Linked DNA regions of Homo sapiens: region 2 is linked to region 1. A link means that fine-mapping ties the variant in region 1 to the expression of a gene that starts in the linked region. Tissue or cell type: CD8 T cells. Region 1 holds a variant in brackets; the other region holds the start of a gene. All regions are shown on one strand. Distances are from middle to middle.

The links. PIP is the estimated chance that this variant, and not a neighbour inherited with it, causes the effect.
Region 2: it holds the start of SRRT, and the variant in region 1 is fine-mapped to the expression of SRRT in CD8 T cells (Kasela 2017, PIP 0.95).

Annotation. Positions count from the first base shown.
Region 1 is chr7:100,901,302-100,906,443 of GRCh38, reverse strand. It overlaps the pseudogene RN7SL549P. Among named protein-coding and RNA genes, the nearest start is that of ACHE, 8.0 kb to the right of the region's middle. The variant C/T (reference allele first, on the strand shown) is at 2,069.
Region 2 is chr7:100,872,236-100,877,377 of GRCh38, reverse strand. SRRT (serrate, RNA effector molecule) reads right to left here and starts at 2,275. Exons shown (of 20, transcript NM_015908.6): 1 at 2,050-2,275; 2 at 1,666-1,805. The coding sequence starts at 1,787. It overlaps TRIP6 (thyroid hormone receptor interactor 6), which reads right to left. Exons shown (of 9, transcript NM_003302.3): 8 at 4,634-4,754; 9 at 3,924-4,206. The coding sequence ends at 4,075. RefSeq lists a silencer at 1,794-2,023 and enhancers at 2,164-2,223, 2,434-2,483, 2,060-2,725, 2,726-3,390.

The DNA of each region.
Region 1 (5,142 bases):
GGGAGCGGGGCACCACCAGATTGTCTAAGGACGGGTGAACCTGCCCAGGTCAGAAGCAAAGCAGGTCAAAACTCCCTGCAGATCAGTAGTAGGATTGTACCTGTAAATAGCCACTGAACTCCAGTCTGGGCAACATAGCAAGAGCCCCTCTCTAAAAAATAAATAAATAAATAAAATTAATTAGAAATCCAATTCCAGAAGTTGTAAAACAAACAATAAAATAAACCTATAAACCTGAGAGAGCACATAGACGTTAATAAAGATAAGAGCGGAACTTAATAAACCGGAAAACTGGAAAACACATGAAAAGATGCTCAAATTTCCTCATAATAGAAAGTAGGCCAGGTGCGGTGGCTCATGCCTGTAATCCTAGCACTTTGGGAGGCCAAAGTGAGTGGATCACCTGAGGTCAGGAGTTCAAGACCAGACTGGCCAACATGACAAAACCCCGTCTCTACTAAAAATACAAAAATTTGCTGGACATGATGGCACATGCCTGTAATCTCAGCTACTCGGGAGACTGACACAAGAGAATCAGTTGAACCCGGGAGGCAGCGATTGCAGTGGGCAAAGATTACACTGAGCCGAGATAGCACCACTGCACTCCAGCCTGGGTGACAGGGCAAGACTCTGTCTCAAAAGAAATAGGAAAAATTAAGCTAATTAAACCCTTAATGCTTACTGAATTAAATATATTAATTTAAAAATTAATTAATTTTTAATTTTTAAAAAAATAAAGTAACTGGCCTGGTGCAGTGGCTCACGCCTGTAATCCCAGCACTTTGGGAGACCAAGGCAGGCAGATCACGAGGTCAGGAGTTCAAGACCAGCCTAGCCAACATGGTGAAACCCCGTCTCTACTAAAAATACAAAAATGAGCTGCGCATGGTGGCGCGCGTCTGTAATCCCAGCTACTCAGGAGCGCGCTTGAACCTGGGAGGCGGAGGTTGCAGTGAGCCAAGATTGTGCCACTGCACTCCAGCCTGGGTGACAGAGCAAGACTCTGTCTCAAAAATAAATAATAAATAAATAAAGTAAAGCTGTACTGAAATACCATTCACCTCTTAAATGGGACAATTTTTTTTGTTTTGTTTTTGGAGTTTGTTGAGACAGGTTCTCACTCTCTCATGCAGGCTGGAGTACAGTAGCATGATCACAGATCACTGCAGCCTCAAACTCCTGGGCTCAAGCGATCCTCCCACCTCAGCCTCCCAAGCAGCTGTGACTACAGGCACAAGCCAGCACACTCAGCAATTTTTTATTTTTTGGAGAGCTGGGAGTCTCACTATGTTGCTCATGCTGGTCTTGAACTCCTGGGCTCAAGCGATCCTCCCACCTCAGCCTCCCAAAGTGCTGGGATTACAGGCATAAGCCACCACATCCAGCCAATTTTATTTTACTTTTAAATATACTATGTTGGCAAAACTATAGGCAACCAATAACTAGTGACCCAGTAATACATGTTGAGGAATTTATCCCAGGGATATACTTGCAACACTGCAAAATTATTTGTGCACTAAGTTTGTAATAGCAAGTAACTGAAAGCAACTTAAATGCTCATCAGTAGGGGACAAATTAAATTATGTTACTTTCAACTGGGCAAGGTGGCTCATGCCTGTAATCCCAGCACTTTGGGAGGCCAAGGCGTGCAGATCACCTGAGGTCGGGAGCTCGAGACCAGCCTGACCAACATGGAGAAACCCCGTCTCTACTAAAAATAAAAAATTAGCCGAGAGTGGTGGCACATGCCTGTAATCCCAGCTACTCAGGAGGCTGAGGCAGGAGACTCGCTTGAACCTGGGAGGCGCAGGTTGTGGTGAACTGAGATCGCACCATCGCACTCCAGCCTGGGCAACAAGAGCAAAACTCCGTTTCCAAATAAATAAATAAATAAATAAAATTATGTTACTTTCATGCAATATAAAGTATGCAGCTTTTCATTAAACAGGCAAAAAATAAAGAATGAGGGCCAGGTGTGGTGGCTTATGCCTGTAATCCTAGCACTTTGGGAAGCCAAGGCAGGTGGATCACTTGAGGTCAGGAGTTCAAGACCAGCCTGGCCAATATG[C/T]AGAAACCCTGCCTCTACTAAAAATGGAAAAATTAGCCAGGTGTGGTGGCAGGCGCCTGTAATCCCAGCTACTTGGGAGGCTGAGGCAGGAGAATCGCTTGAACTCTGGGGGGCGGAGGTTACAGTGATTGGAGATCACGCCACTGCACTCCAGCCTGGGTGACAGAGCTAAACTCCGTCTAAAAAAAAAAAAAAATGAGAAAGTCTATGATGTACAAATCTGGAACTATCCTTAAGATACACTGTTAGCTAGGTTTCTTTCTTTTTTTTTTAAGTCAAGTACAGAAGAGTGTGTAAAGGATGCTACAATTATGTAAAAACATGGATTCAGGGCAGAAAAATACCTGTTGATGATATATGCATGTACCTGTTTGGGCTACAGAAAAAAATGAAGAAAAAAAGTGGGTAATATATGCAATATAGGACCACAGTTAACACTGCTTTAGGAATGAATACTGGGTCGAGGAAGGCAGGGAAGAGGAGAACTTTTCACTTTATACGTTTTCAATTTTATGAATTCACTAACTGTCCAAATAAATAAAATATAACTTTTTTTTTTTTTTTTTTAGGACAGGGTTTCCCTTTATCCCCTAGGCTGGAGTGCAGTGGCACGATCTCAGCTCACTGCAGCCTTGACTTCCTAGGCCCAAGCCATCCTCCCACCTCAGCCTCCTGAGTAGCTGGGACCACAGCCACGCACCGCCGCACCCAGCTAATTTTTGTATTTTTGGTAGAGAAGGGGGTCTCCCTATGTTGCCCAGGCTGATCTCAAACTCCTGGGCTCAAACGATCCACCCACCTCGGCCTCCCGAAGTACAGGGATTAAAGGCATGAGCCACTGTGCCTGGCCCAAAATGTAACTTAAAAAAGGATATTCCCCAGCCAGGAAATAACTTCTCCCCACTCATCTAAGATCTTTCCCCTCTCATTTCCCGCCATCACTGTTGCCTGCAGCACAGACATTTGTTAAGTGCGCCCAGGACGAGGATGGGAGGGTGTCACAACTGAATGAAAGTAGGGAAGCCAGGCGCGGTGGCTCACACCTGTAATCGATTCCAGCTACTCAGGAGGCTGAAGGCAGGAGGATCGCTCAAGCCCAGGAGTTCAAGGCCAGCCTGGGCAACATAGCGAAACCCTGTATCTATCCAAAAAAAAAAAAAATAGCCAAGCTTGGTGGCATGGGTCTGTAGTCCCAGCTACTCAGGAGGCTGAGGTGAGAGGATCCTTTGAGCCCAAGAGGTCAAGGCTACGGTGAGCTACAATCGCACCACTACACTCCAGCCTGGGTGACAGAGTGAGACCCCCATCTCTTTTTTAAAAATTAAAAATTTAAAAATAAAGGAGGAGGAGTCCCGCCCTAGATGCAGAGAGCCCCCAGATGTTCTGAGCTGATCCATTTTCTGCTGTAGCTCCCATGTGTCAATGGCCCAAAGCTTCCCAGCACAGCCCCAGCCCCGACCCTGGCCCTGCTGGGCACCTCTCTAGTGAGGAGGGGAGGAAGCACCTGCCACTGCCCACATGCCACCACTCTAGGACCCCAGGGTTCCCCACCCTCCCCTGTGGCAGAGCCCCAGTCTCTAAGTCAGTTAGGGAGAGGAAGGGTAGGGAGACAGGGCAGGCGCAGAGAGGGGCTAGGAAGTAATTGTCATCTCAATATTTAAACTCGGGCCGGGCGCAGTGGCTCATGCCTGTAATCCCAACACTTTGGGAGGCCGAGGCAGGCAGACCACAAGGTCAGGAGTTCAAGACCAGCCCGGCCAACATGGTAAAACCCCGTCTCTACTAAAAATACAAAAATGAGCTGGGTGTGGTGGCACGCGTCTGTAATCCCAGCTACTCAGGAGGCTGAGGCAGGAGATTCGCTTGAACCCGGGAGGCAGAAGTTGCAATGAGGGGAAATCGCACCACTGAACTCCAGCCTGGGCAATAGAGTGAGACTCTGTCTCAAAAAAAAAAAAAAAAGAGGAGGAAGAACTTGGGGGAGAATGGGAGGCAGAAGATAATCATCTCCCAGGAAGCACAGGGACTTGGGCAGGGACCCCCACCCCGCAACAATGCACACACCCCACACCTCTCTCCTTGGAAGGGAGGGGCCAGGAGGGCCTGAGAGACTCTACTTGATTTTCCAGAAGTTACAGGAGAGAGTCGCTGCAAAACAGCCCAGCCCATCCAGGTCAGAGTTCTCACCCAAAGTCCAAAGCCTGCAATTTACCAGCTGATGAAACGAAACAACCTCTGTATGATTACCTGTATGTTAATGCCTCTGGGCATCAGTTTCAGTTTCCCAGCTGTTAAATTGTACTAAAAATAGCCTGGGTGTGGTGGCTTATGCTCATAATCTCAGCACTTTGGGAGGCCAAGGCAGGTGGATCAGCTGAGGTCAGGAGTTGGAGACCAGCCTGGCCAACAGGGTGAAACCCCGTTACTACTCAAAATGCAAAAATTAGCTGGGCGTGATGGCATGCGCCTGTAATCCCAGCTACTCAGGAGGCTGAGACAGGAGAATCGCTTGAACCCAGGAGGTAGTGAGCCGAGATCACACCATTGTACTCCAGCCTGGGTGACAGAGTGAGACTCTATCTCAAAAAAAAAAAAAAAATTGTAATGAAAATACAGCCTACCCACTGGGGCTGGGCGCAGTGGCTCACGCCCGTAATCCCAACACTTTGCGAGGCCGAGGCGGGCGGATCACCTGAGGTCAGGAGTTCGAGACCAGCCTGGCCAACATGGTGAAACCCCGTCTCTACTTAAAATACAAAAAATTAGCCGGGCGTGGTGGTATGCACCTATAATCCCAGCTACTCGGGAGGCTGAGGCAGGAGAATCACTTGAACCCGGGAGGCAGAGGTTGCAATGAGCCAAGATCATGCCATTGCACTCCAGCCTGGGCAACAAAAGCGAGACTTCGTCTAAAAAAAAAAAAAAAAAAGGCAAAGAAAATACAGCCTACCCCATTTGAATGCTACAAGTGAGAATTAAATGAAATGATATTTAGCAAAGCATTCAGGAAGCGGCTGGCAAACAAGCTCTTCTTCCCCATACATGCTACTGTGAAAGCAACATTGGATCTGGGC
Region 2 (5,142 bases), 29 kb after region 1:
GTGATCTCAGCTCACTACAACCTGTGCCTCCTGGGTTCAAGCAATTCTCCTGTCTCAGCCTCCCAAGTAGCTGGGACTACAGGCGCGCACCACCATGCCTGGCTAACTTTTGTATTTTTAGTAGAGACAGGGTTTCACAATGTTGGCCAGGATGGTCTCAATCTCTCGATCTCGTGATCTGCCCGTCTCGGCCTCCCAAAGTGCTGGGATTTCAGGTGTGAGCCACTGGGCCCGGCTGGCTTTTTTTTTTTAACTCTTTGCTGTCACTGCCTTGATGTTTGGTAAAGCATCAGCGGTTTTACCCATCATTGCTATGGCACCAACAGTGGAAATGGCAATAATATGTAAACATTACCACAAAAACTAATTTTAGCCTCGGAGACCCCCTATGGTCTGTGGACATCCTGAGAAACAGGACTCTAACCAAACTAGAATATGCTAAAATCACACGTTATGTCCACAACTCCAAGCTGTTCATGTCACTCGTGTCTGGGGAATTCCCACTCATCTTTCCAAGTCTAGCCAAGTGTCACTTTCCAGTGGGTCCCTGACACACAACCTCCAGCACCGCTCCCCTCCTTTAGAGATCTGTTCCCTCAATGCTTACCCTCTTTATAACTTCCACTATATATACTCATTTACAGAATACATCCACTGCCATTCTGATCCCCCATGCCAAGCTCACTGTAACACCCTAAGGTCAATAACCACATCTTATAATCAATCCAATCAGCACCGCCCTATGAACTCTGAGATTTTAGGCAAAACAGTGACAAGAAACCTAATCATATATTGTCAGGGAAATAATCTGACGACCTCTCCAGTCAGATCAACTCTATATTATTATTTTTCTGAAGCAATCCTCCTAAAATATAATTTACAACCTGGGCAACAGAGCAAGACGCTGTCTCTACAAAAAATAATTTTAGACCAAGCACTGGCTCATGCCTGTAATCCCAGCACTTTGGGAGGTCGAGCTGGGTGGATTACCTAAAGTCGAGAGTTCCAAACCAGCCTAGCCAACATGGTGAAACCCCGTCTCTACTAAAAATACAAAAATTAGACGGGCGTGGTGGCAGGTGCCTGTAATCCCAGCTACTCGGGAGGCTGAGGCAGGAGAATTACTTGAACCCCAGAGGCGAAGGTTGCAGTGAGCCAAGATTGCGCCATTGCACTCCAGCCTGGGCGACAGGGCAAGACTCTGTCTCGAAATAACAATAATAATTTTTAAAAGTTAGGCGGGCGTGATGGCCTCCCCCTGGAGTCCCAGCTTCTCAAGAGGCTGAGGCGGGAGGCTCGGTTGAGCCCGGGAGGTGGAGGCTGCTACGACTGCATCAATGCACTCCAGCCAGGGCAGCAGAACAAGACCCCATCTCAATAACAAAACAAAAAAAAGCAAAAAAGCACGCTTTTCGTGCATGTATAAACAGTGCTTCTTCATACTCAAACTCTTAGCTCTATAGCTCTGATCTGCAGAGAATTTCAAAAACCAAGCCACAGCTAGTTATTTGGCCAACAGCAAATAGGCTGAACCACAGAAAACGGTCCAATGAGCCATTTCATAGGATTCGCCCTCATAAAAATTACAAGGGGGAGAAAGAAAAGCGACGCGGGTGGAGTGAAACGGCATGAAACGGGGACAAGATGAAGTTAAAAACGGCTCACCTGTCATTCCAATCGTCCCCTCGACGTCTTTCATCTCTCTCGCGGGAACGGTCGTAGTCGCTGCGCTCTCTTCTGAACTTGTCCCTGCGCCTTCGATCGTACTCGTCATCACTGTCACCCATGGCACGGTCTGAGGGGGCCTGGGGACCGGGGAGAGGCGGTAGGAGTGGTGCAAAAGGACGAGCGGAGGAAGGGACCGTCCCTCGCGGGCAGCTCGCCCGCTTCCCTCCCGCCAAGGCCAGCCCTCCGCGGCCCCCACCATCCTAGGCCTGAGAACGCGGCTCCAACACCTCCACTCGCCCCGAGTTTCTCCGCGCCCGCCCCCGTGGACCCCGGTTCCTCTCCCGCCCCAGCGGGGCCCCCCAGGCTCCTCCCCTCCCCCACCTTGGTGCGGCCGCGGCCGTTGGACTCGCGCTCGGACGGGCTAGATTTCAGGGCGACCTGGGTCGCGGGCGCGCGACGAGGACTTCGAGGAGGGCGAGACGGAGACGGAGCTCTTGAGTAGAGGGCCGAAGAGAGGCGAACAAAAGTGGGACAACCGGGGATGGGCAGTAGCGCGCGCAGCCCGCGCTGCGCCTGCGTCACCCACGCCTCCGAGGCACAAAGCTCCACCCTCGCGGCCGGAACTGGAACTAACAAACCGAGCGCGAAGGGCGGGGAGAGCAGGGCGTGATGGGAAAGGGGCGGGGATCTCGCAAGTCTCGCGCGGCTTTTCGAGACGATAACGGCTCGAGCGTTAGGAACTACGGGACCTCGGCTGGGCCAAGCGCGGCCTCGGGAGGCGAACAAGCCCTCTGGGCGCGAAGGGAGAGCGGAAGTCGAGGATCGCGCGACCCCAGATGTGTCGGGGTCCTAAGACGGTTCTCATCCAGCCATGTTCCCCCCACGGGCCTCCTGACCTCACCGGGGGTGATTTCGTCCCCTCCTCGGGCAGGGCGTGGGCTTGGGAAGCGCGGGCGCTTAGGGGATGGAAGGTGGAAGCAACCATTTTAAAGCATCGTATCCCACCATTTTCTGCTCCAAATATCCAGCCAAAATTGGGTGCCACAGTGCGCACTAAATGCAAAGTCCGCCGTTCCTGCTTTTCCTCGACAAAGACGCCCCGTCTTTAAGTAAAATTGGCAGATCTCAGTCTTAACCCCGCTCAGTATTTGGATGAAATAGGCTGTAAGTTAACGCCCTAAACAGAGTATGGACCGCCCAGATTCAATGGATTACCACCCCCGGGAGTAACACCAAGGCCCCTCTCAGTGAATTGAGTGTGAGACTTAATAGGAAGACCAGCTGAGATGGCTCACGCCTGCAATCCCAGCGCTTTGGGAGGCCGACGTGGGAGAATCACTTGAGCCCAGGAGTTGGAGACCTGCCTGGGCAACATAGCAAGGCCCCTTTACAGAATATTTAGGGCCAGGCACATTGGCTCACACCTGTGATCCCAGCACTTGGGAAGGTCGAGGAGGGAGGACTTAAGCCCAAGAGTTCAGGACTAGCCTGGGCAACATAGCAAGATCCCATCTACACACAAAAAAATAATAACTGGGCTTGGTGGGATGCCCCTGTGGTCCTAGCTACTGGGGAGGCTAAGCCAGGAGGACTGTTTGAGCCCAGGAGTTCAGGGCTGCAGTGAGCCTTGATTGCACCACTGCACTCTAGCCTGGGGAACAGAGTGAGGCCCTGTCTCAAAATAGATACATAGAGGAAATCTTGCCTCCTCCCTGAGGCGTGCTTGCTCCCAGCACTGAGAGGAGGGTAGTGACGGATTACAAGAGTTGTCAAAAAAAACTGGACCTGAGTCAAAAAGACCCAGGTTCCACCATTTAAGAACCATGCAATCTGGGGGAGTCACCTCTCAGCTCTGACATCCTCACATGTAAAAATGCAGACAGTGGCCAAGGGCGGTGGCTCACGCCTGTAATCCCAGCACTTTGGTTGGGTGAAGCGGGCAGATCACTTGAGGTCAGGAGTTCAAGACCACCCTGACCAAGGTGGTGAAACCCCGTCTCTACTAAAAATACAAAATTAGCCAGACGTGGTGGCGGGCGCCTGTAATCCCAGCTACTCAAGAGGCTGAGGCAAGAGAATCACTTGAACCTGGGAGGCAGAGGTTGCAGTGAGCCGAGATGGCACCACTGCATTCCAGCCTGGGTGACAGAGCCAGACTCCGTCTCAAAAAAAAAAGAAAAAAAATGCAGGCAGTAACAATGACTGGGCCTGTAATGGGCTACTGGGAGAATCAGATGAGACAACAGACTTGGAAGTGTTTTGTAAACTCGAGGGATTATTATTTCTTGATTGGAGAAAGAGAAGACAGCATTTGGTGACAAAGTCATACAGGTGGATGTCAGGGAGAGTGATCAATCAAAGGATGGGAACTGGAACTGAGAACCCAGCAGGTACTTCTAGGAAGACTCAGCAGTCAGTGGTGACGGTGGCTGAGAGCTCCTGGATGCGCCAGGCGCTGCAGGCCTTGCACAAGATGTGCCCATCCAGCGGGTAGCAGCCCTGACACTCGCCCTCAGAGGAGAGCAGCAGCCCACACTCCTGTTGAAAAAGAAGCAACAATTGGCCGGGCGCGATGGCTCACGCCTGTAATCCCAGCACTTTGAGAAGCCGAGGCAGGAGGATCACAAGGTCAGGAGTTCAAGACCAGCCTGGCCAATATGGTGAAACCCTGTCTCTACTAAAAATACAAAAATTAGCCAGGCATGGTGGCCAGCACCTGTAATCCCAGCTACTCAGGAGGCTGAGGCAGGAGAATCACTTGAACCCGGGAGGTGGAGGTTGCAGTGAGCCAAGATTGTGCCACTGCACTCCAGCCTGGGCAACAGAGCAAGACTCCGTCTCAAAAAAAAAAAAAAAAGAAAGAAGCAACAGGTTTCCATCAACCCCAGACCTCTGTGTTCCCCCTCATGCTCTACCCAGCACCCTAGACACTGCCAGCCCCTTGCACGTGCTGGGGGCCCCTGACCTCGCACTTGTAACAGCCAATGTGAAAACTTCGATCCAGAGCAACAATTCTCACAGTCTCCTCCTGACCTGGCTCAGGCATTATGGCCCCACCGCACACTGAGCATCTTGGGGCAAACTTCCTGCAGGGGAAGAGAACCAAGAAGGCCATCAAGCCTTGGGGTTGCAGGGCACCAACAATGGAACCCAGAGAAGGTGGGGCACAGGAGGGAATCAGAGAGGCCAGAGGTATGGCCTTAGGTCTTGGGGAAGGGACGATGTCAAAGAGAATGAGAGAGGCTAGGTGCAGTGGCTCTAGCCTGCAATCCCCCGACTTTGGGAGGCCAAGGCAGGAGGATCACTTGAGGCCAGGCGTTCAAGACCAGCCTAGGCAACACAGCAAGACGCTGTCTTTATTAAAATACAAAGAAGAAGACTGGGTGCAGTGGCTTACGCCTGCTATCCCTGCACTTTGGGCGGCCGAGGCAGGTGGATCGCTTGAGCTCAGGAGTTTGAGACCAGCCTGGCCAA